Homo sapiens: one gene and its partners. The protein of the gene in region 5 purifies or fractionates together with the protein of the main gene of each other region. This does not show direct contact. Each region holds a gene or a part of one and is shown on either strand. Other genes may lie near its edges. The genes, in order: TTL, RAP1GDS1, TSC22D2, FBXW11, TSC22D4, BTRC and TSC22D1.

What was found.
Region 1: the proteins of TSC22D4 (region 5) and TTL purify together in Homo sapiens (affinity purification with mass spectrometry; 3 studies listed by BioGRID and IntAct, with this or other methods). This does not show direct contact.
Region 2: the proteins of TSC22D4 (region 5) and RAP1GDS1 purify together in Homo sapiens (affinity purification with mass spectrometry; 4 studies listed by BioGRID and IntAct, with this or other methods). This does not show direct contact.
Region 3: the proteins of TSC22D4 (region 5) and TSC22D2 purify together in Homo sapiens (affinity purification with mass spectrometry; 4 studies listed by BioGRID and IntAct, with this or other methods). This does not show direct contact.
Region 4: the proteins of TSC22D4 (region 5) and FBXW11 purify together in Homo sapiens (affinity purification with mass spectrometry; 4 studies listed by BioGRID and IntAct, with this or other methods). This does not show direct contact.
Region 6: the proteins of TSC22D4 (region 5) and BTRC purify together in Homo sapiens (affinity purification with mass spectrometry; 4 studies listed by BioGRID and IntAct, with this or other methods). This does not show direct contact.
Region 7: the proteins of TSC22D4 (region 5) and TSC22D1 purify together in Homo sapiens (affinity purification with mass spectrometry; 4 studies listed by BioGRID and IntAct, with this or other methods). This does not show direct contact.

What each region holds. Positions count from the first base shown.
Region 1 is NC_000002.12:112,487,962-112,492,540, reverse strand, and holds part of TTL (tubulin--tyrosine ligase), read right to left. Parts: intron 1-4,579. UniProt on the Homo sapiens protein: Catalyzes the post-translational addition of a tyrosine to the C-terminal end of detyrosinated alpha-tubulin.
Region 2 is NC_000004.12:98,438,606-98,442,171, reverse strand, and holds part of RAP1GDS1 (rap1 GTPase-GDP dissociation stimulator 1), read right to left. Parts: intron 183-3,566; coding exon 55-182; 3' UTR 1-54. UniProt on the Homo sapiens protein: Acts as a GEF (guanine nucleotide exchange factor) for the Rho family of small GTP-binding proteins (G proteins) that stimulates the dissociation of GDP to enable subsequent binding of GTP.
Region 3 is NC_000003.12:150,463,214-150,467,605, reverse strand, and holds the end of TSC22D2 (TSC22 domain family protein 2), read right to left. Parts: 3' UTR 1,184-4,392; downstream 1-1,183. UniProt on the Homo sapiens protein: Reduces the level of nuclear PKM isoform M2 which results in repression of cyclin CCND1 transcription and reduced cell growth.
Region 4 is NC_000005.10:171,869,948-171,874,526, forward strand, and holds part of FBXW11 (F-box/WD repeat-containing protein 11), read right to left. Parts: intron 3,044-4,579; coding exon 2,925-3,043; intron 912-2,924; coding exon 801-911; intron 1-800.
Region 5 is NC_000007.14:100,472,443-100,477,021, forward strand, and holds part of TSC22D4 (TSC22 domain family protein 4), read right to left. Parts: intron 1,999-4,579; coding exon 1,832-1,998; intron 1-1,831. Other genes in the region: TSC22D4-C7ORF61 (uncharacterized protein LOC122198330), read right to left, coding at 1,832-1,998.
Region 6 is NC_000010.11:101,528,361-101,532,939, reverse strand, and holds part of BTRC (F-box/WD repeat-containing protein 1A), read right to left. Parts: intron 1,704-4,579; coding exon 1,607-1,703; intron 646-1,606; coding exon 508-645; intron 1-507. UniProt on the Homo sapiens protein: Substrate recognition component of a SCF (SKP1-CUL1-F-box protein) E3 ubiquitin-protein ligase complex which mediates the ubiquitination and subsequent proteasomal degradation of target proteins. Recognizes and binds to phosphorylated target proteins.
Region 7 is NC_000013.11:44,436,831-44,441,409, reverse strand, and holds part of TSC22D1 (TSC22 domain family protein 1), read left to right. Parts: intron 1-4,117; exon of another isoform or gene 4,118-4,234; intron 4,235-4,551; exon of another isoform or gene 4,552-4,579. UniProt on the Homo sapiens protein: Transcriptional repressor. Acts on the C-type natriuretic peptide (CNP) promoter. Acts to promote CASP3-mediated apoptosis.

The DNA of each region.
Region 1 (4,579 bases), on a different chromosome or scaffold from region 5:
GCCAGGATAGTCTCGATCTCCTGACCTCGTGATCCACCCGCCTCGGCCTCCCAAAGTGCTGGGATTACAGGCGTGAGCCACCGCGCCCGGCCCACACCCAGCTAATTTTTGTATTGTTAATAGAGACAGGGTTTCACCATGTTGGCCAAGCTGGTCTCAAACTCCTGACCTCAGGTAAACCACCCACCTCAGCCTCCCAAAGTGCTGGATTACAGGCATGAGCCACTGGGTCAGGCCTAAAATTTAATTTGCCTTTAATTTAAAAACGGATGCATTATAAAATATTTTTCCATTAAGCACAACTTTATTGATATGGTGAGATAATACTTCACTTTCTTGTTGTATCGCAGCATGCACGTCAGGGCCATGTGTCATTTCTAGTATCACACACAAACACATCGCTATTCTATTCAGGGACAATAGATTGATTCAGATCAAGTGATTTCTGTGCAGTGATGAAACATTATGATATGTTTACTATGCAGAGAGCATGAATTACAGTGCTAGCTACAAATACCACAATTGGGACTAAGGTGAAATAGAATTTCTTCCTAGTTAAAAAAATATTTGGACAAAAATTTAAATTTAAAACGAAGGCATACTACTGACGTGGAATTGAGTAGGGACACAGAAGCTAGAACTATGACAAGGACAGTAAGAGATTTAAAAAAAAAGAACTGAAAGGAGGTATGCCACAGATTCACAAGAAATGGTGACTGCAATAGGCTATGGTAAAAGTAAAATGAAAAAACGGTTGTGTAAAGGAGACATTTTTAGCAAATACATAATAAACTTGATAAGTATTTTCCTCTCAATGCTCAAAAAAATTAATGAAACTAGTGGCTAAAATCACAATATCCAACACATTTTTTAAGCAAATGTTTTACAGAGTCTGGGTTTATAATTTTGGGCAACTATAAAATGGCTTGGATTCTTACACAAAAAGAAAACCATTTTAGATGCAAATGTAGTTTTAAAAAACTATTTTAAGGAAAAGACTTAAAAATATAATTTACAAAAAATGAACAATCTTCAGCTGAGTCACAATTGCCCACAGACTACAAAACCTTTCTAACAATATCAAAGATTGACTCAAAATTTGAAAAATATTAAGTATTTTTCTTTAGCTTTAGGTGAACTGTGTGACATAAAAGATGCTGTCCAATTAATACTTTGGGTGTTTTGCCTCAAAGGATTTCCAAATGTATGATAAAATGCTGTCAAATTGCAGCTTAAAAAATATCAAACTCAGCCGGGAGTGGTGGCTCACGCCTATAATCTCAGCACTTTGGGAGGCTGAGGCAGGCGGATCACAAGGTCAGTAGATCAAGACCATCCTGGCTAACGCGGTGAAACCCTATCTCTACTAAAAATACAAAAAATTAGCCGGGTGTGGTGGCAGTTGCCTGTAGTCCCAGCTACTCGGGATGCTGAGGCAGGAGAATTGCTTGAACCCGGGAGGCGGAGGTTGCAGTGAGCTGAGATCGTGCCACTGTACTCCAACCTGGGTGACAGAGTGAGACTCCAACACACACACACACGCAAACTCATAGTATAGATATTTTAAAATCTCTTACATCTGTCACAGAATTTTACCTACATGCAAAAAATTTCTTTCTATCATGACAGATAGGACTTCAGTTAGGTTGTATTAAAATATGGATTTATGGCTGGGCACAGTGGCTCACTCCTGTAATGCCAGCAGTTTGGGAGGCCGAGGCAGGTGGATCACCTGAGGTCAGGAGTTCAAGACCAGCCTGGTCAACATGGTGAAATCCCGTCTCTACTAAAAATACAAAAAACTAGCCAGACATGGTGGTGGGTGCCTGTAATCCCAGCTACTTGGGAGGCTGAGGCAGGAGAATCGCTTGAACTGGGAGGCAGAGGTTGTAGTGAGCTGAGATGGTGCCACTGCACTCCAGCCTGGGTGACAGAGTAAAACTCCATCTCAAAAAAAAAAAAAAAAAAAAAAGATTTACTAAGATTTTAGTAGACTAATGTTTCCTTTACTACTTCATTTTATTGTATGATACATATTGGAAACATTTGCTTCATTGCATTATGTGTTACATGTTGAAAACATTTGTGTTAGGTCTGCTTTTTGTTTGTTTGTTTGTTTATCCGAGACAGGGTTTGGTTCTGTTGCCCAGGCTGGAGTGCAGCGGCACAATCTCGGCTCACTGCAAACTCTGCCTCCCCGGCTCAAGCGATTCTTGTGCCTCAGCCTCCCAAGTAGCTGGGATTACAGGCGCACACCACCATGCCCAGCTAATTTTTTTTTGTATTTGGAAGAGGCAGGGTTTCACCATGTTGGCCAGGCTGGTCTCGAACTCCTGACCTCAAATGATGCACCTGCCTTGGCCTCTGAAAGTGTTGGGATTACAGGTGTGAGTCACCACATCCGGCCTTGTGCTAGGTTTTCTGAAGCAGACTCTAAGTGTCACGGATACAGTTGTTAAAATGGTTCTGTATATACTCAATGATTCTCCAGTTCATGGAAACAGAAGACAATGAATTTAATGATACTGTGTTCTCTGCCAGTATTCACTGATGGAGAAGGGGAAGGGTCTTTTTAAATAAAGATTTACTTTTCAACTCCAATTCAGATTTTCTTGAAAATAAAAGGAATGTTTGTCAAATCATCATTTTCACTCAGTAATTCATTATTTCAATAATCAAAATAAAAAATGACTGCCATTTGCATTTTCTCATCTATCTTCATACTGCATATAAACAAGATAAATTTAAAGCTCCAAGGAAGGGAAGAGAAGATCTTATTTATGATCCACCCAGACAGGTGTGAGAATTTATGTTCCAACTTCATAAGTTGATAATAATGATTTCACATATTTTTACAACATGATTCAGTATGCAAAAAATGTTAATTGTAATAGCATTATGAAAATTGGCTGCAAAAACTAAAAGAAATCTGAGGAACACTTTGTTGACATTGGTAAATTTAGAGTTACTTTTCAATATATTCAATACATCTTTGAATTTGATATTTACAGTATCAAACTAACACAAGAGTTGGTGAATTTACTTAACTTGGACATTATTTTGAAAATAAGCTTTTGCTTCATAGTCAAATCAATTCTTCTAGAAAAGATGAACTAGTTTTGAAAATGTGTGTGCAATATTAAAGGAAATAGATCTTCTGGCTTTCAAAGTTGTTGAAAAACTTTTATGTACAACTTGAGTACATAAATCTACTTCTTCAACCATACATTTTTTATGTAATCTAAATTCAGATCAAAGCTTTCCAATGAAAATTTACTGTTTGAATTAAGATGTGCTACATATGTAAAATTCACATTAGATTTTGAAGAGTGAATAAAAGAACGTAAAATATAATAGCTTTTTATATTAATTACATGTCAAAATAACATTTTGGATTTATTTAGTTAAATATAATAAATTATTTGGGTTTTTTAAATTAATTTATTTCTTTTTTGAGACGGCGTCTCACTCTGTCACCCAGGCTGGAGTGCAATGGCATGATCTCAGCTCACTGCAATCTCCACCTCCTGGGCCCAAGCAATTCTCCTGCCTCAGCCTCCCAAGTAGCTGGGACTACAGGCGCCTGCCACCATGCCCAGCTAATTTTTATATTTTTAATAGAGACGGGGTTTCACCATGTTGGCCAGGATGGTCTCAATCTCTTGACATCGTGATCCGCCCGCCTCGGCCTCCCAAAATGCTGGGATTACAGGCGTGAGCCACCACGCCCGGCAATAAATTATTAATTTAATTGCAGCTGTTACTTTTCTTTTCTTTTTTTTTAAGAAGGAGTCTCACTCTGTCTCCCAAGCTGGAGTGCAGTGGCATGATCTCGGCTCACTGCAACCTCCACCTCTCAGGTTCAAGCGATTCTCCTGCCTCAGCCTCCCGAGCAGCTGGGATTACAGGTACCCACCACCATACCCAGCTAATTTTTGTATTTTTAGTAGACATGGGGTTTTACCATGCTGGCCAGATTGGTCTCGAACTCCTGACCCTAAGTGATCTGTCCGCCTCAGACTCCCAAAGTGCTGAGATTACAGGCGTGAGCCACCACGCCCGGCTTGCAGCTGTTTCTCTGCACTTATTTTAATGTGGCTACTAGGCGGTTTATAATTACATGTGTGGGTAGCATCCTATTTCTGTTGGACAGTGCTGGTCTGTAAGATGACCTTGGTTTGGAAGCCCTCATTTCCTGCACAGAACCAAGACCAGGCTCTGCAGGAAGTCCTTTGCTTTTGTCCCATTTCCTCATGGGCCCATTTGGGAAGTAATCAGAAATGGAGATTTATTTACATCTATAAAACAGCAATGCTCAGGAGAGGAAAAGATAGCCTCTGATCTGTACCAGGAGAAGAAAAGCCCCTCAGGGTTCTAAGACTATGGCCTTGAGGCCTCAGTGAAATTTCCGAAACTCCCTGAAGTGACAGGGGGAAGGACTGGGCTGCACAGGGTCTTGCACTGAACCCCACCAAGGCTCTGGGAAGCCTCCCAAGGGTGCACAGTCACAATGGCCAGGGGTCCCATTTGTGCAGATTAAAACTGTCCTGGTTTAACAGGAGCTACTATGGCCATGGGC
Region 2 (3,566 bases), on a different chromosome or scaffold from region 5:
ATGGAGGACAGAGGGGAAATTAGAGATGGGATGATGCCGTGTATCGGGCAGTTCTCAGCTTTCCACAGTAAGTCTCTGCTCTGTGAGAGAGGCCTGCTGGGCAACACTTTTGTTCTCATGACTGCGAAGTTTGGATACGACATCTAGAAAAGCCAAATCCTGTACTTCCTTGTGTAGACATTCTGGAAGACAAAAAAATAACAGATATGATTCTGTTAGGTTGTTCTAAGTCTATCCAAAACATATACCAAAATGTTTATTTTGACAAGACTAAGCTTATAAAACTAGAAACAATTCTGGAAAAAGACATAGCAGTAGCCTAGCAATGTCTTTCTTAGAAATGTATTATAATTTAAAAAAATCATAAAAACTTTACTTTTTTTTAAATTAAAGGAAAAAATTTTAAAGATGGGGACTTGCTCTGCTGCCCAGGTTTGAGTACAGTGGCATGGTCACAGCTTACTGCAGCCTCAAACTCCTAGCCTCAAGGGATTCATCCTGCTCAGTCTCCCAAGTAGCTGGGATGACAGTCATGAGCCACTGCACAGCTACTTGCCCAATTTTTAAAAAGAAAAACGAGACGTCAAGTTCTACAATGTAAGATTAATTACAATAATGAGTTATAATTAAACACAGCTCACTGTATGATCTCAAGGTTTGGTTACATACAACCCTATCACCAGTTCAAATATGAAGTCCAATGACTTACCAAAAAGCTTAGGATATGTTTCAAATTAATTTTGTGGCAAAAGAAAAGTTTATACTTCATATCCTTCAACAAATTTCTGTGACACTGGACTCCCTTTTAGATTTTTTGTCCTCTTCTTTCTGACTTGCTTTCTCTATTTAACTTCAATTACAAGAAAATATAGGATTCCTGTTAGGACTCTGAGAACTGTTATATGGGATGAGTGAAGTCTAATAAGCTTAATGTAATCAGTACTACTGAAACTGATGTGTTTATTTTGATATGACTGACATAAACCAATGAACCAGTGTTTTTAGTAGTAATAGAAAAATCCATCCTAAAATTCATATGGAATCTCAAGGGACCCTAAATCTCCAAAACAATCTTGAAAATGAACAAAGCTGGAGTTCTCATACTAACTGATATCAAAACTTACTACAAAGCTACAATAATCAAGATAGTGGGGTACTGGTACAAAATCCTACAACTTGGGCCAGGCGTGGTGGCTCACGCCTGTTATCCCAGCACTTTGGGAGGCCAAGGTGGGTGGATCACCTGAGGTCGGGAGTTTGAGACCAGCCTGACCAACATGGAGAAACCCCATCTCTACAGGTGGTGCATGCCTATAATCCCAGCTACTCAGGAGGCTGAGGCAGGAGAATCGCTTGAACCTGGGAGGTGGAAGTTACGGTGAGCCGAGATTGCACCATTGCACTGCAGCCTGGGCAACAAGTGCGAAACTCCGTCTCAAAAAAAACAAAACTCTTACAATTCAACAACAACAACAACAACACCCTTCAATTCTAAAAATGGGCAAAGACTTGAATAGACATTTCTCCAAAGAAGATATACAAATGGCCCACAAACACATAAAAAGATTCCCATCAGTAATCATTAGGGAAACGCAAATAAAAACCACAGTAAGATGCCACCTCACACTCATTAGTTTGGCCATTACTAAAACACAGCAAATATTGGTGAGGATGTTGAGAAATGATAATCCATGTGTACTGCTGGAAGAAATGTACAATGGTCCAGCCACTGTGAAAAAGAGTATGACAGTATTTAATTAGTAAAAACAGTATTTAATAAAAAAATTAAACATTGAATGACCATATGATCTAGTAATTCCACTTCTGAGTATATATCAAAAATAATTAAAAGCAGAGGCTCAGAGATATTTGCATACCAATGTTCACAGCAGCATTATTCACAAAAGCCAAAAGGTGGAAATGGCCCAAATGTCCATGGATTGATGAATGGATAAACAAAATGTGATATATACATATGATGGAAAATTATTCAGCTTTAAAAGGAAATGAAATTCTGACACGCCTACAATGCAGATAAGCCTTAAAGACCTAAGTAAAATAAGCTAGACAAAAAAGGACAGGAGTTTCTTATTCCACATATATGTGGTGACTAGAGTTGTCAGATGATGGAGACACAAAATAAATGGTGATTGCCAGAGGCTGTGGGGAGGGGTAAATGGGGAGTTATTGGTTAATGAGTACAGAGTTTCAGTTTGGGAAAATGAAGGTGGTTCTGGAGATGGATGCTGGTGATGATTGCACAGCAATGTGAATGTCCTTAATGCCATTAAACTGTATACTTAAAAATGGTTAAAACAGTAAATTTTATGTTTTGTATGTTTTACCACAATTCTAAAAATGCTTAAACAAATGGAAGAGACTCAAAGTCTCTGCAAGGAAATAAAAGATATAAAGAAGAAGCAAATGGAAATTTTTAACTAAAATATATAACTGAAATAAAAACAGGTTCAACATCAGAATAGAGGGGACAAGGGAAATAATCAGAGAACTTCCAAGATAAAACAATAGAAATTACTCAGTCTGTACAACAGAAAGAAAATAATCTGTGGGTAAAAAAGAACAAAACCTCAGGGACCTACAAGACTATAATTAAAGATCTCACATTAGTGTCAACAAAGGTCTGGAAAGAGTGGATAGAATGGGGCTGAAAAGTACCTGAAGAAGTAACAGTCAAAACTTCTCAAATTTAGCAAAAGACATAAACCTATCAATTCAAGAAGCTGAGCAAACTCAAACAGGATAAACCCAAAGAAATCCATGCCAAGACACATCATAGTTAAACTTCTGAATACTAAACGCAAAGAAAGTCTTGAGAGACAAAAATGAAACCTTACCTACAGGGGAATAAAACACATAAGAACACAATGGATTTCTCATCAGAAACCAGGGAGGCTAGAAAAAAGTGGCACAATAGTTTTCAAGTAAAGAAAGAAAAGAACTGTGAACCCAGAATCCTATACCCATTTTCTGTCATTTGACAATGTCATTTCCCTTTCATTATGAATGAAAAAAATTTTTTTTGGCTAAAAATCTGTTGCTAGCAGTATGGCTAAAGGAAGTTCTCTAAACAGAAAGGGAATGATTATAACAAAAATAAGAAATCTAAAAATGTGCGTAAATACGATAGACTTCCCTTCTCTTTCAAAGAGTTTTCTGAAATATGTTTGGTGGTTGAAAGAAAAGTTGTAACACTGTCTAACGTGATTCTAAATATATGTAGAAGAAATATTTAAGAATGATATACGTGAGAGGCTGGGCGTGGTGGCTCACACCTGTAATCCCAGCACTTTGGGAGGCCAAGGCAGGTGGATCACCCTGACGGGTGGTCAGGAGTTCAGTATCAGCCTGGGCAACATAGTGAAACCCCGCCTGTACTAAAAATACAAAAATTAGCCAGGTGTGATGTGGCAGGCATCTGTAATCCCAGCTACTCGGGAGGCTGAGGCATGAGAATCACTTGAACCCTGGAGGAAGAAGTTGCAGTGTGCCAAAATCACGCCACTGCACTCCAGCCTGGGTGACAGAGTAAGACTCTGTCTCAAAAA
Region 3 (4,392 bases), on a different chromosome or scaffold from region 5:
TTTTCCTCCTCCTCTTGGAACTCCCTTCTGGGGGGTGACATTCTTGAGTATCCTGGGGAGGGGAAATGAGTGGGAGTATAAATAATGCAAGATTGGCCATGAGTAGATAATTGTTTAAGCTAGGTGATAAGTACATGGGAGTTCATTATACAGTTCACTGTTGTATATGGTTGAAAAATCCACAACAAAATGATAAACAAAATTGTAAGGTAACCACTGGAAGAATGTATCTGGAATGTATAACTTCCCAACCAAAAGAGGGATCAAAAATGAATAAGAAACAACTGAATGAAAGCCAAGAAAAGGGAAAAAGGGTGTGTGTGTGGCAAGGCAGTGGCCGGTGCGGGGGTGGGGTGTCTAGAAAGCATTTTAAGGAGAAAACATGAAATAAGATGGCAGAAATACATCCAAATATGCCACTGATGAAATAGACATGGATTAAATTTTTCTATCAAAAGACAGATTGGGTTAAGAAATTAAAAATTCAAGCCAGAAACAGTGGTGGATACCTGTAGTCCCAGCTACTTGGGAGACTGAGGTGGGAGGATTGTTTGAGCCTAGGAGTTCAAAGCCAGCCTGGGCAACATAGCAAGACTTCATCTCTATAAAAGAAAAAAATTGGGAACACTTATTCTATTTCATGGAATGAAGTGTTGCCTGGTTCAGAAAAGAAAATTCAACTATATACTTTTTATAAGGGAAACTCTTTATAAAAAAAAAGTGAAGTTAGAAAATGAAGAGATAGAAAACTACTAGAGTAATGAAATGATCATAAAGAGAAATTAGGAGTAAAGCAGTTCAATAAGATATGGGATAGAATTAGCAACAAAGTGATCATCAATGACCTTGACAAGAACAGTTTCAGTGGCACAATGGGAGCTAAAGCCAGACTGCGTTTGTGATAAGCTGTACGTGGAAGAGGAAAAAGTGGAAAGGAAGAGGAAGGAGCTGAAAAAGCAAGTGAAGGGAACATATTTTCAGTTAGGGGAGGTGGTCTACTCATTTATTGGCCAGTTATTTATTGAGCCTGTATAAATACTGATGTGAAAAAGCCATGGGAGAAGGCGAAGTAGAAGAAACAGGTAGGGGGGGAAGATATTCCTGGGGAGGAAAGATGCTGAACATGATGAGACCCCAGGTACCAGGGGGAAACATTAGCAGCAGACAAGAAGAAAACACATTATTTTATTTTATTTCTAATTTATTAATTTGTCATTACACAAACAATACATAAATGCATATTCAAAAACATCAAACATTACAGTTAAAGCTAATGCACGCTACCAAACTACTGTTGACAGTTTGGTTAGTATCCTTCCAGACCTTCTCTCTATATAATACACAAATATGTACTTGTAGAAGTACACTATACAGTATTTGTGTGTGTGTGTGTGTGTGTGTGTGTGTGTGTGTGATGTGATTTAACATCACTAGTATCATATGTATTACAGGTATTGTCTTTCAATTTTTCCCCCAAACTTTTAACATTGTCTCCTGGAGATCCTTCCATGCCGGACATGTAGGACTCTCTCTTTTTCATTGATACTTAATACTTCATCATGTGTACCATAGTCCATCCTCTTGATGAGTATTTTGGTTTTTCCAATTTCATAGTATTACAGTAGCTCCCCCATCATGGAGGATATTTTCCAAGACCCTCACTGAATGCCTGAAACCATGAATAATACCAAACCCTCTATGTACTATGTTTTTTTATGATCTGATAATAGAAATGACTAATGGGCATTATAAAATGGGTATATAATGAGTGTATACATTGTGGATACACTGGACAAAGGGATGATTCCTGTCCCAGGCAGGATGGAGAGGGATAGTGAGAGATTTTTATTATACTATGCAGAAAGGTTTGAAGTTTAAAACTTATGTTCGTTTCTGGAATTTTCCATTTAATATTTTTGTATTGTGGTTGACCTTGGATGACTGAAACCTCAAAAAGTGAAAATGCAGATAAGGGGGTCTACTGTACAAGCAAAGGTGCAATTGACATCATTGTACAGGCTATCTTGTGAACACATGTATGTTTCTTTAGGACATTAAAAGTTGGAATTGTTAGGTCACAGGGTATGTGACTTTTAAAATTTAATGGGTGATACACAATTGTCTTTAAAAGAGGCTGTGCCAATTTGTATGCTCACTAGCAATGTATTCCTGTTTTTCCACACCCTTTCCAGCTTTTGATTTGTATGCACGCTAAATATTAGTTGGATCTGAGATGGTTTCTTGTGTTTTAATGTGCACTTCCCTTATTTTGCTGAGATTGAGCTTCTCTTTATAACCTATTTGTAAAGTTCTTTGCTTATGTGCATTTTCAAATGGACAGGGTATATAGCTTCATAGCTTCCAATTTCTAAAAGGGAGTAACCAAAAAGTAGAAGACTAACTGCTAGTCTAGCTAGAATTAATTTTTGTGAAAGATCTAACTTTATATTTCTTCTAAATTGTTATGCTATCCCATACTATTTGTTGAATAATCCATTTTTTCCTTACTAATTTGAAATGTCACTTTTATTACTTACTCAACATATTATTTGTGTTTCTGGATTCTCAGCTGTATTAGAGATTTATTTTTGGTATCAGTCACCTGAGTTATTCTTAACTTGGTTCATTAAATGGTAGCTGATTTTGTCAGCCAAGATAATAAGTGTCACTTGTTGCTTATGAGACAATAGACAATATAATTCATGACACATGAATCCTATTCTAGTTAACTTTGATTTAAATCAATTTCATTATCTACAACTTAGAGTATTAAAAATGTGTAAACTTTTCTCAGATTAGTTCCTCTTTTTTAGGGAATACTTCATAGGCTCGATGTCGAGGTGGAAGGCTTTTCCCCTCCTTCTAAAAGTATTATTTGATGTTAAAGCTTTCTGGTGATTTAAAGTTGTTTCCTGGCAATATCAAAGGATTTTTACATGGGATGGCAATATTACTGTTGATTTATAAAAACCTTTCATTTAACAAATGATATAAGGTTCACAAACTATAACATATACTCTGAATAAACAATATGGCACTTTAACTTTTACACTTACACTGGACTGAGCTCATTGGAGCACACAAATCATGTCCCATTCATCTTTCTATCCCCAAACATCCAGTACAGGTTGCAGCACCTAAATTGAAATAGAATTAAATTGCATGTCAACATTTTTTTTATAAAATAAAAAAAAGAAACCTAAATTTCTTGAAAACATCACTTTTAGGGTTTTACAAAGTCATACATGTTTCTTTTTATTAGCCACTGACCTGTTATTATTTCCATCTCAAGTGTGGGGAAAATGTTCCCTTGCTGTCTCTGATCTTCCTCAGGTATGATATGACCTATCTATAGATACATTGCATGCCTGTGAAATGACAGCAAGAACTGTGATCCGGATAACATTTGGATTGCAGCAGGCAAGAGTATTTTACAGTTGTTATATGGAAATATTGTAGGCATGCAAAAGAATGGAGAGATGAACTTAACTTTTTTATGGAGAAGTTGAACTGTGGCATTTGCCTTGTTTTAAAATTCAGTTGTTTTTATGATCTAAGTTAGCACACCTTTCCCTTCCCTCCAAGGGGATAAATATGGCTTCTGTGGACAATGTTGTAGTCTGTAAACTTAAATACTATGGACCCATGACAGTAGACAATGGGAAAATTCCCCAAACTGCCTAGTCTATCAGTTTCCCTGCTGAGAATGAAAAATAAAGCTAACTCACTCACCATCCAGGTATGCTGAACAAATTCAACAACTAAATGGACTGCGCCAGTGCAAAATACCAGCGTCTTACTTTGCCATCACCAATCTGAAAATCTGTCTTATTTTTCTTATTTGATGATTCCATGGCGGGGTTCGGGGGGGTGGTGGGCAAGCAAGAATGTCTGTGAACTTTAACTTGCTTCAGAGTGCCTCACTTAGCATTTTCATCTATGAACACAGCATGTCATACCAATTGTACTCCACAAAAGATATAGTTACAGTAGCACTTGTATAAAGTAATCCTTGCAACCTATGAAGGAAAGCCATACATTTAAAGGGATCTTGCTGTAGAAATTCTGTGAACTGGTACAGAAATACAGGACAAAGATGTATCCTGAAATATTGAAAAGGAGTAAATGGGGTGCAAGTATACATCACTAAATAATAAACTATTACTATTGCTAGAAAATAGAAATATGGATTATTAAGAGGCTTGAAGCAGAAGGAGGTGGGAGAAAAGGTCTGGTTTTGGATAGGCAGGAGACTTAGAAAAAAGAAGCCTGCAGGACTGACCTATGTCAAAGAATAAAAGGCTAAAGCCTAGCAAAACCTATTCTGCCTTGGGCTGTCAGTACCTACAGTGGGGGCCAGAACCTGTATTATCCTTTCCAGGGAGCAAGGAA
Region 4 (4,579 bases), on a different chromosome or scaffold from region 5:
TCTGAACCAATTACACTTGATTTTGGAAAAATTAAGAACCTACACATTCTCAGAATTGCTGAAATTTTAAAGAAATATTATTTTAAGGGAGATAAGAAAACAACTTCAGGTTATCTAAATTCAGTTCCGGACTTGATAACCTATGTCACCAAATTCATTCATCAGGGGACTCTCTAGGGCTGAGTAGGTGCTGCTGACAGAAGCTAGGGCTCTGTGTGAAATTCCAAGGATACCTTTCTCCAAATTAAGCAAATGCTGGAAGTTAGTAATAGGAGTACAAACAGACCAACTAACCCATTTGGGAAGTATATATAAGGTCATCTGGAAAGATTTACAGTTGCCATTTGCTCATTTAAAATGTAGTGAGGTGTTTTAAAGAGGGTTTGTTCAATTTACCAAAAAGGGAAAAAAAGGGAAAAGAAGAAACTTATTGTTGAACGAACACACACACACACACACACACACAAAGAGCCTGGCTTAATTTAGGGATAAAGCAAAGAAGTCAATACCCCCACATCAACTATTGAAACCTAAGCTATTGCTGGAGTTGACAGCGATGATTCAAAGCTAAGTTTAGGAACCACAGTGACTCTCCCTCTGTGTGATTTGGGGTAAGATTTAGTTCTTCTTTCTGGGCCTGAGTGTCCTCACCTAAACAACAGGTATAATAATACCTGCCATCCACCATTACACAGAAACCTACCATAGGACCTGGTACATACAGAGTTGCTTAATATATAACATTTCTCTTTCTTCTTGATACAGTTATAGCAGTACATCTGAAAATCTGAAAGACATACCCATCATAGGCCCCACTGACAATCCTCTTGTTATCAAACCGGATGCATCGGACCAATTCTTCATGTCCCTCTAGGACTCTTAAACAGGCACCACATTCAATATCCCAGAGCCTTGAATGAAAAACAGACCTCTGTGAAACAAATTCCCACACACGATTCACACTATCCGTAAGTTTTTTATATCTGTTCCATACAGATACAATTTTTCACTATCTTGGAGCTCTTTATTTCTATCTCACTTCCAGTACACACCACACATATAAAGCTGTATGTGTACATTTATACCATCTGTGTGTTTCCAAGCACTAACCTAGGAAGAAGCCTTACTTTTTATTCTATTTCCTTTTATATGATTTGAAACTGTTTTTAATCATGCGTCTGTATTACTATTTAAATAAAATCAACAAACAAGAAACTTCAATTCTATTTAATCCTTAGGCATTCTCTTGATGTCTGAGTTGATAAAAACCATGTAGACAAATGGTGTAGGAAAGACTCTTCTGGGGAGACAGGGATTGTAGGCAGTAAAGGAGAAAGAGCACAGATGAGACAAGGTGGGAAAGGAGATATCACGTACAGCCAGGGGGTTAAGCTTCCGCCCCAGGCACTTCTAGCACAGTGGAGTCCATAAGGACCACTGAGGTTAGAACTGGCGGACCAGCAGGGGAGGTGGCTGTCTCTTGATGAGGCTTGGGGATACCCCTTCCTTGATACTATATGCTGAATACTGGGATTGACGGTTTACAAAGTCAGAGTGGGAGACTTACTAGGTACACGCAGTGTTCTGGTGGAAATATAAACCCATTGACAACACCAAGTCTTTTTCTCTGCATATGATTTATGTAACAATTCTGGAGTTAGAGATCTTTTTTCCTATTATGACTGATTTTCTACAGTATTTGTAGAAAAAAATCATAGCTAGTTAGCATGTACAAAATAAAGTGAGCAAATTAATTCTATAACTTTTTCTTAGCCTCTCTACCAGTAATTCCTATGATACATCCAAAGAATGTATTTTATTACAGCTGCCCTTAGCAAATCTTCTTAGTACCCGTGATGATAGCATCTCTAATCTGTGATCAAAGCCATTCAGTACTGCCACTATGACTCCAAAGTAGTTCCCTTCTATAAGCTGGAGAGTAATACACATTACTATCTTGTAAAACCTTGACAATTCCAATGAGGAAGTTAAGAACTGTTTATTGATGAAACATTAAGCAATACCACAAAGCATGATGAATATAAGAGAATCAAGATTTAAGCTCTAAACTAAATTTATGGTATCTTGAAGCCTAAAGTGATAAAGCAAACTTAAATAGCTTTTTTGTTATTTGCTTGCCTTAAAAAAAAGTTTTAATAATCTTAAACCCAATCTTTATTTTGACCAAACATTAGGCAATTATAAACGCCAAAGTTTAGTCACTTATGTAAAGCTACTAGCATGTGTTTGCTTGCCTGCCTTTAAAAAACAAAAAACTTTTTTTAATAATCTTGAATCCTATCTTTATTTTGACCAAACATTAGTCAATTTGATTATAAACCAAAGTTAAGTTTAGTCACTTATGTAATGCCACTAGAGTGTGTTGAGACAGTGGGGAAATGGCATGGGATAATGAAGTAGATATTGAAGGGATGTTCTTAGTAAGATACAAAATGTCTAAGGTTAGTCAGATTTATTAGAAAGCAGGGAGGCCGAGTGCTGGGAAGGAAAAAGAGAGGTAAATGACCTGGCAGGAACAGATGCAGTCTTGGGAGAGGAAAATAAAGTACACTCCCATGTGTTAGGTAGGGAGGTGGGAGCTCACAGGTGAGGGAAATTGGAGCGAGCTGGGCTGCACTGCAGCACCCTAGCCTGTTCTGAAGTGCTCTGGTATTAAGTGATCCCAGGTGGAGCTGAGGTTAAAAAACTTTGTGTACTGGGGGAATCTTGGAAGAACACCCAGGGCACACACGGTTTTCCCACTTGAGTATACAGAGCCCAAATACATTTCTAAAAGTTACCTAAAGCTTTCTTATCTGAAACATCCCATTTACCCTGAGTTGTTTTGAGCATTAGAACTAGGAGATGAGTCAACAATGTGGCAAAAATCAGCCTGCTCTGTCAGCACACCAACTTCTACCCACCTAATGGTATTATCTGATGATCCACTAACAACCAGGCGATCCCTGTACTGGAGACAGGCAATGCCCCGCTTGTGCCCATTGAGAGTACGAACAAATTCACAGGTGCTCGTGCTCCAGACCTGTATAACAAATTAACAGTATTTTAAAGAATGAACACAGGAAAGTCCTCTCACAATATACCTTTCTTAAAAAGACAGAGCTTCTGATAATGACCCAAATATGTGATTATAAAATACGGTGTCCTCTAACTCAAAGTTGGGAGGCTGGGGGGCAGACTAGACAGCATAAAATTTTCTTGGCTGCTGAGTAATAACACTGGAATGAAACACGGAGGGAAGTGAAGTCTCCAGTCTTTGAGATCTTTACAAAGAGAACATCTCCTGAATGGTTCAAACGCTCATTTACCTGGAGGAAAGAGTTTGGGCCAGATTTTATGTTTTTACACCAGCTGACATTTCAAACCCCATGGAGCTAATGTAATAAAAAAGCTTCCAGCTGGGTACGGTAGCTCACACCTAATCCTAGCACTTTGGGAGGCTGAGACAGGAGAATTGCTTGAGCTAAAGAGTTCGAGACCAGCCTGGGCAAAATAGTGAAACCCCATCTCTACAAAAAATAAAATTAGCTGGGCATGGCAGCATGCACCTGTGGTCCCAGCTACTCAGGGAGCTGAGGTGAAAGGATCATTTGAGCCCAGCAGGTTGAGGCTGCAGTGAGCTGTGTCTGTGCCACTGCACTCCAGCCTGGGTGACAAAGCAAGACTTTGTCTCAAAAAACAAACAAAAAGTCTCACCTTTCATATCATCCTCTTTTCCAGCATATTTTCTGGAACAGCTCCATTTGTTTTGACACATTACTTCTAATTGTATGTATGCAGAATAAATAATCCCCTCTTTTGTGGTATCTGACTTAGATGTTCATAGACAGCTAAACATATTATTAGACAAATAAGGAGACACACAGCAACCAGAGTGCCCTGAATTATCTTACCAGCTGCATTTGTAGCTGAATGGGATAGATAAATAGATCTCCACAAGTAAAAGAATGGCACTGGACCCCTACCTCATACCTTAAACAAAAATTTAACTCAAAATGGATCAAGGACCTACACATAAGCACTGAAACTATACAAGTCTTGATAAATTGAACATCATCAAAATTAAAATCATTTGTGCATCAAAGGACACCATCAAAAAAGTGAAAAGACAACTCACAGAAAGGGAGAAAATATTTGCAAATCATGTATCTGATAAGGGACTTGTGCCCAGAATATATAAAGAACTTATAACTCAATAATAAAAAGGCAAATTACCAATTTTTAAAGTGGGCAAAAGATTTAAATAGACATTTCTCCAGAGAAGGTACACAAATGGCCAATAAGCATACAACAAGTTGTTTAGCATCATCAGTAACAAGGGAATGCAAAGCAAAACCACAGAGTACCACTGCACAATCACTAGGGCAGATATAATAAAAGAGACAAATAATAGGAAGTGTTGGCAAGGATATGGAGAAATCCTCCATGCTGATATTATGAAACAGCTATTTTGTAATAAAGCTCAAACCCTCTCAACTTCCAGGCACTGGTCTCATACCAATTGGTGTGACTGTGGGAGTAAGTTGCCGCATATAAATCCTAGTTGTTTAGCTTCCCA
Region 5 (4,579 bases):
ACAGGGGAAAGACGGAGGCCTCAGGAGGTTGAATCCTCTAAGACAGAGACAGCAGGAGGCTGGGCTGTGAACTCAACAGGGGTGGGGGAGGGACGGGGAGTCCTCTTGCCGGGGAACCTCCCAAGTGGGAGAGGGAGAGGGCGGGAAACGCTGAGAATAGCAGTGATGGCGGCAGGTGACTCTCCCAGCCCTGGCCGACCTCACACCTCGCACATTCCTGAGAGTGGGAATGGGGCGTGCAGAAGCCACCCAGTCCTGCCCAGCCCCGCCCAGCCCCACCCAGCACTGGCACTCTTGCCCTCCGTCCCACCAGCTCCTGGCCACCTCCTTTGCCAGGTCCCTATCCTCCCTGAGGCCGCAGGACCCTATCAGTGGTGGGCTTGAGTCCCTGATCCCAGCGAGTGGCCCCTGATCTGGGGAGGACAGGAAGGAGCGACTCCCATCTGGAATTGGTCCCTCAGGCACCCACTCACCCACTCTCGAAGCCCCACCCCCAATTTCCTTCCAAGCAGGAAGTCCCTCCCCTTGAAAACCTCCCACGGGAAGTCCCACTTCTCCCTCCAAAAGAAAAGCGGTGACTCCCCAGCCCTTCTGCCCGGTTCCTATCAGTCCCCGGGGAGAAGCAGGCAGCCTGGCTATCTCTGACTCACGATTCTGGGCCTCCCTTTTCAGCTTGCTGGCTTTCTTAGGAATGGTGACACCTGGCCCTGAAAACCCACCCAACAGAGCACTGTCCCCTAAAGGGAGAACCCCAGAAAGTCGCTCTCTGCAGTGCTGCCCCTGCCCCTTTGCCGTTCCTAGCTCTGATTCTGTTCCTAGCTGGCCCATCTTAGGGACTTGCTTTCTCGGTTCTAGAAATCTTAGGATCCTAAAGTAGACCCTGTGGGCTATCAGGATGTCACGCTCCACAGGTGCTGTTAGGGAGTCCCAGTCCTTTGTTAGGAGAGAAAGAGGGAGATGGAACTGGGAGGAAACTGATTTCCATTCTTTTTCAGTTTTTTTTGTTGTTTTTTTTTTGAGGCGGAGTCTCGCTCTGTCACCCACGCTGGAGTGCAGTGGTGCGATCTCGGCTCACTGCACCCTCTGCCTCCTGGGTTCAAGTGATTCTCCTGCCTCAGCCTCCTGAGTAGCTGGGATTACAGGCACGTACCACCACGCCTGGCTAATTTTTGTATTTTTAGTACAGACAGGGTTTCACCGTGTTGGCAAGGCTGGCCTCGAACTCCTGACCTCAGGTGATCTGCCCGCTTCAGCCTCCTAAAGTGCTGGGATTACAGGCATGAGCCACCATGCCCAGCCTACTTCCTTTATGTATATATATATATATTTTTTTTTTCTTTCTTTCTTTTTCTTTTTAGAGATGAGGTCTCGCTACATTGCCAGGGCTTGGTCTTGAACTCCTGGCCTCAAGCAATTTTCCTGCCTGGGCCTCCCAAAGCACTATGAGTACAGGCGGGAGCCACTGTGCCCCGGCCTGATTTGCTATTCTGTCTAGAGCATGCATTTGCCAGTGGGTTCCTGGGTTGGCCAGATGATCTCTAAATCTGCAAGAGCTCTGGAATCTGACAACAATGACTCCCTTCAGACTCTAAAAAAGTCTGTGACCTGACAGTTCTGAGCCAGGGAGTCCCACCCAGCCCTCTCCACAGAGAGGGAGTGGGTCCGAAATCAACTGTGTGCAGTGGCTATGCCCAGGCCAGGTTTCTCTAAGAGGTCCTCTCCAAGTTCAACCTGGGGGAAGGATGCCTACCAGGCACTTTCTTACAGCTACCCCGGGTGCTGGGCGGGGAACCTGAACCCCACGCCCCACCACCCCACGAAGCCCACCTACCTATCATCGTCGCTGTCTAGGTGACCACTGATGGCCAACATGGAGTGGGCCAGGCTGAACTTCTGAGCTGCTACTGCTCCGAAGGGGTCTGGAGATTTGTGAACCAGGCTGGCATCGTGGGTGAAGTAGAGGGCTGGGGAGCTGGGGCGAGAGTCAAGTGGGGGCACCTGGAGGCGGAGAGGTAGGAACCATCACATGAAAAGAGAAAAGAAAGGAACCAGCTGCCTTAAAACTTGCCTATTAGCCTTCCTCCCTCTCCACCTCCCCACTCTCTTTCGAGGACCCAGGAGTCCTGTCCCCGCAGTCCTTCCCTCCTCCAGCTCTGGAGAAGGCATTAGGCAGGTACTAGAAGCAAGAAGTGGGTCAACCTAAGGAATGGGAGGAGTGGTGTATAGGACATTAGAGAGAGTCTCCCAAGTGGGAGGAGGGGGTGACTGACGGAGGAACCCAGAATAGACTCCAATGCCCCAGCTCCCACTGGGCCGGGACCCCTAATCAGAGGCTACGCAGCGTGTCTGCCTTCTTTTATGTTTTATTTTTATTTTTTTGAGACAGTCTCACTCTGTCACCCAGGCTGGAGTGAAGTGGCACAATCATGGCTCACTGCAGCCTTGAATTCCTGAGCTTAAGCGATCCTCCAGCCTCAGCCACCCGAGTAGCTGGGACTACAGGCATGCACCATCATAACTGGCTAATTTTTTATTTTTGGTTAACACAGGGTCTCAAGATGTTGTCCCGGCTGGTCTCAAACTCCTGGGCTCAAGTGATCCTCCTGCCTCAGCCTCCCAAAGTGCTGGAAGAATGAGCCACCACTCCCAGCCTGTGCCTTTACTGGAGTCTCGCTCTGTCGCCCATGCTGGAGTGCAGTGACGTGATCTTGGCTCACTGTAACCTATGCCTTCCAGGTTAAACTGATTCTCCTGCCTCAGCCTCCTGAGTAGCCGGGACTACCGGCACCTGCCATCACACCTGGCTAATTTTTTTATTTTTAGTAGAGACGACAGGGTTTCACCATGTTGGCCAGGCTGGTCTTGAACTCCTGACCTCAAGTGATCTGCCCGCCTCGGCCTCCCAAAATGCTGGGATTACAGGCGTGAACCACTGCACCCAGGCTGCCTTCTTAAAATGACTCCAATGTCACCTCTTAGAGAGGCATTTCCCCATCATTCACTGGTTTACTGAACTATTTCATTTTTTTATAGCACCTAACATTATCTGAAATTAAAGTATTTATTGTGTCTCTCCCCTGCTAGAAGGTCAGTTTGCTCAGTAGCTATTTGTAGAATGAATGGATCCTCAGAAACTGCTCCTCCATCCCCTCACCCACCCCCCACTCTCGCTTCCCCTCTCAAACTTCTCGGACTCAGGTGGAATTCTGCTCCTGCGCTCTGCCCTAGGGTTGGGGGGGGAGCTGGTTGTGGAGCTGGGGGGAGGCGGAGCCTGGGCGTGGACCTGCATAGCCCAACAGGCTCTGGGGGCAGCAGCAAAAAGGGCGGGGGCGACAGGAACATGACAAGACGCCTCTGTGAGGCCCCGGGAGGCCCCAGCTTCTCAGAAAAGCCAAGAACAGAGAGTCCAGGGTGGTTAAGGGACAGAGCAGAGGAAGGGGGCCCAGGTGGTGTCCCCTGGCCCTTCTCCACCACTCCCCTCTGTTAAGAGGGAGAAGAGGCATGAGGGGACGTGGAAGGGAGACAGACTTTTGGGCAAGGAAATAGCAAAACAGATGCGTGCAAACAGAAGACCGTCAGGAGGTGGGGGAAGGCTGGGGAGTAGGGGGCACTGAGAGAGAGAGGCAGGGTCTGTGGCCCCAAGAGAAGCTCAGGCCAGGCTTAAGGACAGAGAGCAGGGAAGCTGGAGGCCAAGGGGGTTTGCTTTGGAAGAGTCTGGGGACAGGACAGGAAGAGAAACAGCATCTTCTCCCCTGGGGTGGGTGCTGAATGCAAGAGTTCAAGAAGAGTTGGGGGAGGGGGGGTAGGAGGGGGCATCACGAGAGATGTGAGCTTGAGGCCAGGAGGGGTTTGGGGGGAGCCAGTCCTGACCGGTCCTGACAGGACCCAGACATCCAGTCCCAGGTTATTTTTATACTGTGGTTTGTGCCCAAGGCCAGGAAGGGGAAAGAGTTCGCATCCTCACACTCCCTGCCTTTCCCCAGACCTCCGAGGTGTTATATTCTCCCACAGGACAGAAGTATCCAACCTTCTATCTCTGGCTGCTCACCCCCACCATGGGGACCCAGGCATCCTGCCCCCACAGCCTGGCTTGTTCCTCTTTTGGAGACAGGAAGGAGAAAGAGTATGGGACTGAACTCCCTTCTGGGGCTCTTCTCTCCCACTCCACAGTGGTCACCCTCGAGTTATCAATCACAGAGAGGCTCAGATGGACGGGGGTGAGCCAGACAACTGGGGGGTGAAATGGATCAACCAGCAGGCCCCCTCCCTGTCCCTGAGAGGTGTTCCCCCCACCCAATTTCTCAGTGACACTTGGCTTACAGCAAAGCTGGAGGCAGGACTGAGATGGGTGGCTGGGGGAAAAGAAAGACCCCCACATTCAGGATGGGGCTGCAGTGCAGAGACTGGCAGCGCGCAAGGCCTACCTTTTACTTTTCCTCCCCAAATCCTGGCAGCTCCTCCCCTAGGGACCCAGCTACCCAGCTATCCAGCTGGGGCCTCCACCCTCATCACCTAGAGGCAGAGGGGCTGAGACCAAGACAGAAGAAGGCCTGATGAGGGGGCCACATATGCTACAGGC
Region 6 (4,579 bases), on a different chromosome or scaffold from region 5:
ATAAGATCCTTTTGATCAATGTGATGATGGGGTGCTGTGGAGACTTGTTGGTCCTATTACGTGTCTGATCCCCCAAAATAATCAAAGCCCAGAGTAGTGTGGAATGCATTTTCTATAGGTATAGCTAAGCGCGCGCGCGCGCACACGCGCACACACACACACACACACACACACACACACACACACACATATAGCTTCAGTACTAATGCAAACTTTTATCCTTTTCATTAAGGAACAGGGTAGTCTATAATTATGTGATGGCCAAAAGAGTAACAGCCCATTCAGTGCATTTCAAGAAGAGAATTTAACCCTAGGACTACCCGTTTGTATAGTGGGGAAGCTGATGTCTGTCCTTTAAGGAAATGATTTTGGCTTTGGGACTGGAAACAATCTAAAATCTTCACTTACTTTCTAGAAATAATGCTTAGAGTTTATGCTTTAGACTGCGCTATGAATGTGGTCACTCTTGCTCCCTCTGCTACCTTTCTACAACTGAATAGACCTCACCTTGATTGTGTTGTCTCGAAGGCCGCTTACTATTTTCTGATCATCATACTGTAAACAGTAAACTCCTTTGCTTGTTTCACTTCGGCAGTGAATTCTCTGTAAACTATGTCTTCCACATCTCCAATTAGATTCTATTGTCTGAGAAGAAGGAATGGGAAAGAGGCAGTGTTAGGAAACACCTAGAATCAAACTCTTTTTAGGCTTTAATGACAATCAATGGCTCAATGCTTTACTCTATGGGATATACACAACTTAGGGAAAACTAAAAAATGTCTTTAAAAGGCTACTATCTATATTTATAAAATATTCTTCCTTTTGCAAGGTAATTAAAGGTTGTTTCCTAGAACTTCCCTGCCTATAATTTGTTCAATTAAATAATAAATCTGGTGGAAAGAGACTACTCATCAAGAGAAGAAAAGCTACGAACTACGTGAGGTTATACACTCAGTGCTCTTACATATGTGATGGCCATTGCTACTGATTGCTACTGATGAACTTCTAAGGAGGTTCAATTCAGAAGATATTTAAATATGAGCTTATGAGTACAAGTTTACCAGTCACACTGCTATGTATGAAGGGATCAATCTCTTTAACTCTCTCATCTACTTATTAGTAAACCATTTTTTAAAGCTTTAAAATTTTGCCTAGCAATTTATTTTACCTACCCTACTCGCCTGTAAAGAGATTGATTTTCTTTTCCTTTTCTTTTTTTTTGATGGAGTCTCGCTCTGTCGTTCAGGAGGGAGTGCAGTGGTGCGATCTTGGCTCACTGCAACATGTGCCTCCCAGGTTCAAGTGATTCTCCTATCTCAGCCTCCTGAGTAGCTGGAATTACAGGTGTGTGCCACCATGCCTGGCTAATTTTTGTATTTTTAGTAGAGACAGGGGTCTCACCATGTTAGCCAGGCTGGTCTCAAACTCCTGACCTCAGCCTCCAAAAATGCTGGGATTACAGGTGTGAGCCACCATGGCCAGCTAAGAGATTGATTCCCAACTCATGTCAATAAACCTTAATGGGCTTGCTGTAACCATACTGTGACTGAAGAATGCTGATAATTCTGTGCCCTTGGGCAATACCCCAAAATACATAGATTCTTACCTCAATGTCTTGTATAATTTTAGGATAAAGTGCTCTATAAAAAGAGTTGGGAGGAGCATTCCCGTCAGGAGGTTTGTTTTTGAATAAATACTGTCCCCTAAAAAATAACAAATATTTCCCAGTGAAAATCATGACATTATATATTTAAATACATATATATTTTGAGACAGAGTCTCGCTCTGTTGCCCAGGCTGGAGTGCAGCAGTGTGATGTTGGCTCACTGCAACCTCCGCTTCCTGGGTTCAAGTGATTCTCCTGCCTCAGCCTCCTGAGTAGCTGTGATTACAGTCATCTGCCACCATGCTGGCTAATTTTTGTATTTTAGTAGAGATGGGGTTTCACCATGTTGGTCAGGCTGGTCTTGAACTCCTGGCCTCAAATGACCCGCCTGCTTGGCCTCCCAAAGTGCTGGGATTACAGGCGTGAGCCATCACACCCGGCCGACATTATATATTTATAAGGAACTTCATATATTTTGAAAGTGTTTTCACGGTTACCATTCCATATACTCTCCATAGCTGTCTGCGGAGGAGCAAAGGTAAGCCTGATTTCAGGAGTCCCATGTCAAAGAGTAACCTTCTGGGCTCTAAAGAATCTGACCAACACTGATTTGCTTTTGGGTAAAACATGATTATTTCCAGTGTAGAACATCGGAGTACCAAGCCTTTAGGAATATTATAATATCAGTAAACAAATGGAATATGTACAATCAGAATTCATCTATTGCTCTATTAAGACTACTGCTTAGATTCACTGGCCTCATCTTTTGGAAATTTTGTTAGTAATGGTAACTATTACCTTTGAACTAGCACATGCCCTATAGGTTTTTTTTTTTTTCCCTTTTACTGTGTCAGTGGTCCCCAGCATTGTAGACAGCAGCAATGCCTCTGGCATGGAGATCACTTTTGCTAGGTCTTTATTTGTACAGGGTAAGGTGTGGTGGCTGCTCAGTCACCCAGGCTGCTGCTAATCAGTGCAACTATGCTTTGAAAGGAGCAATTCAGTTCATTTCATCAGAAAACAAAAGGATCACAGGTGTGTCCAGCAGCAGCTAGGGAAGAAGAAAAAAAAGAAATGCCTAAGAGCACTGCTATCAAGTCTAAGGCATGAAACTGACTTTCACAGGTGTGTTCCTGGCTGTGTACATACACATGTACTTAACTGCCTTCCCTGATTCCAGTGAGCAACATTTGTTAGTATCTCCTTCCTTATGACAGCACATCTCTGGAATACTCGTATCCCAAGCTAGATCTTTGCTACAAAAAAAAAATCAGTAAATGGCAATCACTTCCTGCTGGGTAAAAAATTTAATTCCTCATCCGGAAGTTAAGAACCCACCAAACACGGTGTGGAAGCTAGTAAACCCCACTATGGGTGTACTAACTGCTGTTCTCACTGGCACCGTGCCTTGCAAAGTGGAGAGAGGCAGAAATGCCTCTGAGTGTAATCCTGGCACCAGAGAAATCATGTTTTCTCTGGGCCAGTCATCCACTCCTCCCTCTATAGCTCCATTACAATATAATTAATTGTTTGGTGTCTCCAGGAGTGTTTCTCCCCTGCCCTCTCCCTGTTATATACCCTGAAAATTAGTTGAGAAAATTTCCTATCAGGAAGGTAGATGGCTCTAACTTCTGTGTTAATACAGAAAAGAAAATCTGAAATAGAGAAGTGAAAATAATACTTATAAAAAGGGGGATTAATGAAACATGATACACCAGCATAAACAAAAGGGGAAACAAGATGCGTTATGAAAGAATTCCAGATTAATGGTACATTTCTCTGTACAATATTATTCTACAAACACTTTGCAGGCAAATAATAGATTTTGAATGTGAAGATTTTAAGTCTGACTCCTGAGCCCACCCACATTCTTAACTACTTTATTGTTTCTCAATGCCCACCATTCCTGAGATTCCTGTCTTCTTTTAATCTCTAGCACTCCAAGACTTTCTTCCTATGCAATGATACTATCTACATTCTAAGGAAAGAGAACTCACATAAGCTTCTGATCTTGTTTTCCACCTCACTGCATTTACCATGTCTTGGTAAAGTATCTGAATTTCTTCAAATCAAAGTGTTACAGAAAGAGGTGGCTAGGTACTGAAAACTGGCTTCTGTCTTTATGTTTTAAGTCAAAACCTTTTATGATGGAAGATCTTTGAAAACAGGGACTACTTCTATGTGAAATGCCTAGTACCTACAAGAATGTGAGTACATGATAAACGTTAAATATTAAATTCAGAATGTTATCATAAAATGTGATCTGCTGATTAAGAAAATTGACTTTTCCCAAGTGGTCTTTTATTATACTTTTAAGAGTTACCATTACTGAGCAGACAGCATATTCAGTATTATTCAAGAGAGAAAACTACAGAGTTCATGTCCCAGGGGAAGACTGTCAAATCCATCTAGATATAAAATACAACATCAAATACCAAGTTAAAACTTAGAGATAAAAGCTTTATTAGAAAACTGTATTTACTTACTATTTTTGGTTAGTAGAAATGGAAGAACCTTTCAAAGCTAGCATATGGGGAAAAGTATAACACAGAAAGACTTTATTGACGTATTAGGCTTGGTAAGACAACTTGAAAGAAGAAAATGAGAAACTGATGGAGTAAATTTTTTTTTAAAAAAGGGAAGAAAACTGACACAGGAATAAAGTCAACATGTAAAAACAGAAGCAGCAACAAGAAAGTCGAGGGAATAATGGAGGAAGTTGACACGGGATGTATAAGTATTTGGAATTTCATGGGTTTATCATGGGATTAAGAGGATAAACATGCCCAAAGACAAGGGGATATAGTCAGAACTCTGAAGGATACTCAAAAGAGCGGGAATGGGTTTCTGTGGATAAAGAGATAGGGGAAAAAAGTGGTAATTAGTGCTGGATCCTGGATTACTTCACCTACCCTTTAGAAAGGCTCAAAAGCCATCTTCTCAATGATTGTTTTTTCTTTGTAACTAACATAA
Region 7 (4,579 bases), on a different chromosome or scaffold from region 5:
CATTCCGTGTTTTCTTCCTTGCTCTGTTTTCAGTAAAACTGCCTTTGAGCTTATCTAATTGTTCCATTAGATCTATCATACACCTATCAGTAGCTCACCTGTGCCCTGCAAATGCTTAGATGTGTTAGATAATCTGTGTGTTCATTAGCACGGAAGCTCTCCCTCCTGGAGTTCTCCATCTTCCCTTACCATTGCAGACCAGGTACAGACCAGCTGCAGCTTGGGCTTGTCCAGCAGCAGTCCCCCTGAGATCTCCCTGCACTCCAGCCTGCTGATTCCCTTCCTTTCCTCCAGTATCTGAGTTCCTGGTTCCTATTTCCCATGCCTGCCTTTTTTCTTGATTTGCTCCTCCATTTTGGTGTCTGAAATATCTAAAAATGTTTTAATTCTACCTTTACACTCAAATGATGATTTGGCCAAGTAAAGAATTCTGGATAAAAAAACTCTTTTCTCTCAGAATTTTAAAGACATTTTCTTCATCTTTTTCTGACTGCCAGCAAAGTGGTTCTGTTCCTAGTCCCTGTGTTTGTAACTTGTTTCTTCCATTTGGAAGCTTTTAGTATTTTCTCTCTATGCCTAGTGATTAAGGTTTCAGGGTGGTGTGCTTTGGTGGAGGGCTTTTTCATTTCTTGTGGTGGGCATTTGGTCATCTCATTTAACTGGAGACTTGTGTCCTTCAGTTCTGGAACAATTCTTAAATTATTTGATAATTCTCTTCCTTCTGTTCTCTCTCCAAAATAGAAATGCATCCTATTTTGATGTTGGACCTCCTAGATTTATCCTTTTTCTTTTCCGATTCTTTTTTTTTTTTTTTTTTTTTTTGAGACAGAGCCTTGCCCTGTTGCCTAGGCTGGAGTGCAATGATGCGATCTCAGCTCACTGCAACCTCTGCCTCCTGGGTTCAAGCAATTCTTCGTCAGCCTCCCCAGTAGCTGGGATTATAGACATGTGCCACCACGCCCAGCTAATTTATTTGTTTTTGTTTTTTTTTAAAGTGGAGACGGGGTTTTACCATGTTGGCAAGGCTGGTCTTGAACTCCTGACCTCAAGTGATCCGCCCATCTCACCCTCTCAAAGTGCTGGGATTACAGGCATGAGCCATCGCGCTCGCGCCCGGCCACTGTTCTACTCTTTTGGAAGCTTTTTCCAACCAGCCTTTCTGTGGAGATAAGGAAATGTAAATTGTGGTTGAATTTAACAGCCATTTCTTTGGCATTTCTTCTTGTTTTGACAGTGTGTGGGACCCAACACTAAAACACTATTTGTTGTTTTTCTGCCATTCACATTTAACTGATAGTCCTGTAGTTTCATTTGTTAAACCTGGTAAGTATATTCCCATGCCTAGTGAGAGTAAACTAGAAAAATGGAGGTGACGTGGGAGTCCTTAGACAGCAGTGATTTGGTCAGGTACAGGGTAATGTGCCTTCGCTTCTTTCCTGGCAGTTGTTTTAGATTTGCAAGGAGTTTGGATAGGGGGAGAAAGAGGTTACTCTATTTCAGTGCTGAATCTCCAACTGTACCGGTGTTGGCCAAGTCAGATTAAGTTTGGAAGAAAAGCACATGTTACAGGAAACAGAAACACTCAGGCCTGTTCCTCTTTTCCTATCCTGTCATGCTTGCTACCAATATGCAGTAGCAGTTGAATTGGAATCTGTGTAAAAAGGCTTTTAGGCAGACAACACTAGAAAATACCTCAATCTCAATTGTCCAGGCTGTTTAATGTGTATGAGTTCCCACTGAGGTGATACCTCCTGATCTTTGCTCAGTGCCTGAAATAGACTTATATGGTCCATGGCTTTAAGGATCTCTCCTGGAAGCCTTGTAGTATTTTTCTCTGCCCTGTCAGCAAGTCTCAGTGAGCTCTGATGAGGCACCAGACATATGGATCGTTTGTCTTGCAATTAGAAGAGCCTTTGAATGTAATTCTAGCCATTTGTGCCACGGACATTTCTGATCCAAGGGTTTTCCCTCCATGGAGCTTTCCATTTCCTTTGCCTTCTTTTTCAAATTATGTCTTCTCAGTTTTCATACAAAAGTCTAGTTTTAAAGGAATCTAGCATATTTATGTGAAATATATGAGAAAATTAGATTTCTAATCATTTTTTTAGTTGCCTATCCTTTGGCTCAACAAATTCTCCAGAAGTGTGCACACACACATACATGTTCAAGGATGTATGTAGAAGGATGTTCCTTGCAATTTTATTTAAAATATCCAAGTATTAACAATAACTGTAATGTCCTTCAATAGGAAAATGGGTTAAATAGACTATGGTTGCTTATATTTGCTTCTCTTGCTTGATACAATGGATGATCAGTTAAAATGATTGAAATAAAAACAGCTTTCTGTTTATGTTGAAGAACGGCATGAATAAATTCAGTTAATTTAGTAATTTTTTAAAACTGCAGCTTGGAATTTAAAAATTTTTTTATATGACCTTAGAGTTTTGTTTTTTAAAGCTCTTTTTATAGCTTAAATGGTGCTTTAATACCCTTTTTTCATGAAGTTGGCATTCAGTTAAAACATGTAAATGGAATTTAGCATACAAATAGTTTTAGGTATAACTTTAACTTTCAAAATATAGAGACTATCATGTAGTAAATAATATTCTGGTTAGCATTCATAGACATAGGGACCACATGCCAGCTTCCCAAATAATTACGATTTCTAAGCTTCTACTTAGTCTCCTTTTGTTGGAAATGGGTATCTTTTTTTTTAAAGCATCATATGAGTTAATATATGTAATTTTTATAAATTATAAATATGTTAACAATTATTGTTATTCAAAAGCCAAGCCTTAAAATTTGGAGAATATGAACCTTTCAGTAAAAAGGGAATCTCATCACTTTATAGTTGGTCACACTTTGGTTTTTAACCCAAAAGAGAATTGTGGTCTTCATCATTTACTGTGCTTACCGATCTGGTCTGGTTCCTAATAACTTTGGACAGTTTCTGAAAACCAAATCTACCTACCCCCACTACCAGCATTGAGTCAACTTAAAAACTGTCTAAATGGATCTGATGGCAATTTTAGAAAAGGATGCTGCTTGAGGAAAGATGCTTATTTTGGAGAGAAGACTGTGTGTGTTTGTGCATGTGCGTGTATTACATATATATGTTCTACGGTCAGATTTTATGTTGGAATTATTTGTGATGACACAATTTTATCTACAGATTAGAGAGGTCTCCCCAAGTACTTTGTAGATTTTTTGGTTTTTATATTATGCCATTAGAGGGCAGTATTGTAGAGGTTAAGTTTTCTTTCTCGCATGTATTGACTTGGAAACTGTTTATGTTGTATTATAATTTAGCAAACTTCAGGGCTTAGATTTCTAGTATATTAAATTGTAGCCTTAATTGATGCATCCCTGCAAGTATTTTAAATTAATATAGGAAATTTTGAAAGGGTTAAGCTATTTTATACCCACATCTCTCGATTTTGGTTTGGAGAAGGGAATTATTTGGTCAGTGTGGCCAAGAGGGTGAAACAGAGGTGAGCCTACAGCATCTATTGGCTGCTTAACTATTTTTAACCACCATTATATCCTCCCTTTTCTGGTTCTGGACACTGCAAATGGGCAGAGACTAACTTCAAGGATTTGTATGCTTTGAATACATACTTTATAATATTTCAATCCCTCTGATGTAAGAAGGCTCATAGGATTGAGGGATTGAGTCTTAGAGGAATTGTCACTCAGCTTGCAAAAACGTGCCTTAGGGACTTAACTAAAAATAGATTTATGTGGAATTCAACCTGTGGATTGACTTTTTTGGGTCTAAATAGAAGAAGGCATATTTAGTTACTAGGGAGAAGATGCTAATAGGGAGATGTGATTTTAAGGTTTGTGGCTCTACGGGCTTTTTGGGAAGATCCTGGATTTTATCTGGAGTCTTTCCCTCATGCCTAGCAAAGAATATATAATGTTTTTTGTTTTGTTTCTATAAAACAAAAGGTAGTATCTCTCAAAGAGCAAATGTGATTTTTTTTCCTCTAAAATTAAAAAAATACATGATTGCAGGGTGATTATTATCTTTAAAAATAAAACCGTCTATAAAATCCTCCCAGTACCGCTGCCGGTAAGAACTAGATAATTGAAATCAAGACACTCGAAGTCTTACAGTGGTGGGACTGGGCATGCCCAGTAGCTCAGACGGTTCGGGTTACAAATAGGAAGCTTTCGCCGTTAAGCAGCCGCGGGACACAGCTCCGGGGACCGGGGTCTGACTCCCTTAAACGTAAGCACGTGTGGGGGCCCCCATAGTATTTTTCAGGGACCCTTCACATTTTCTGCCGAAGCAATGGCCCAGTGTTTTGAGGCCGCCGTGGAAACCTCCGAACCCAGCACCCCACTCCCTCTGAGCACGGCCCGCGCCAGGCCAGCCCACCCCACGAGCGGGATCTGGAGAATGGGGGCGGAGGTGGGGGTGGGGGGAGGCGGGGAAGCAGGGAAGCGGGAGGACCTGGAAGGGAGTAGGGGGCGGTCCCAGTGGCGTGCCGGCCAATCGGCGCAGCTCTTTCCTGCATATATTTTGCACTAAGACTGGGAGTCCTGGTCTAGAGCTGAGTGGAGCCCGGCTGCG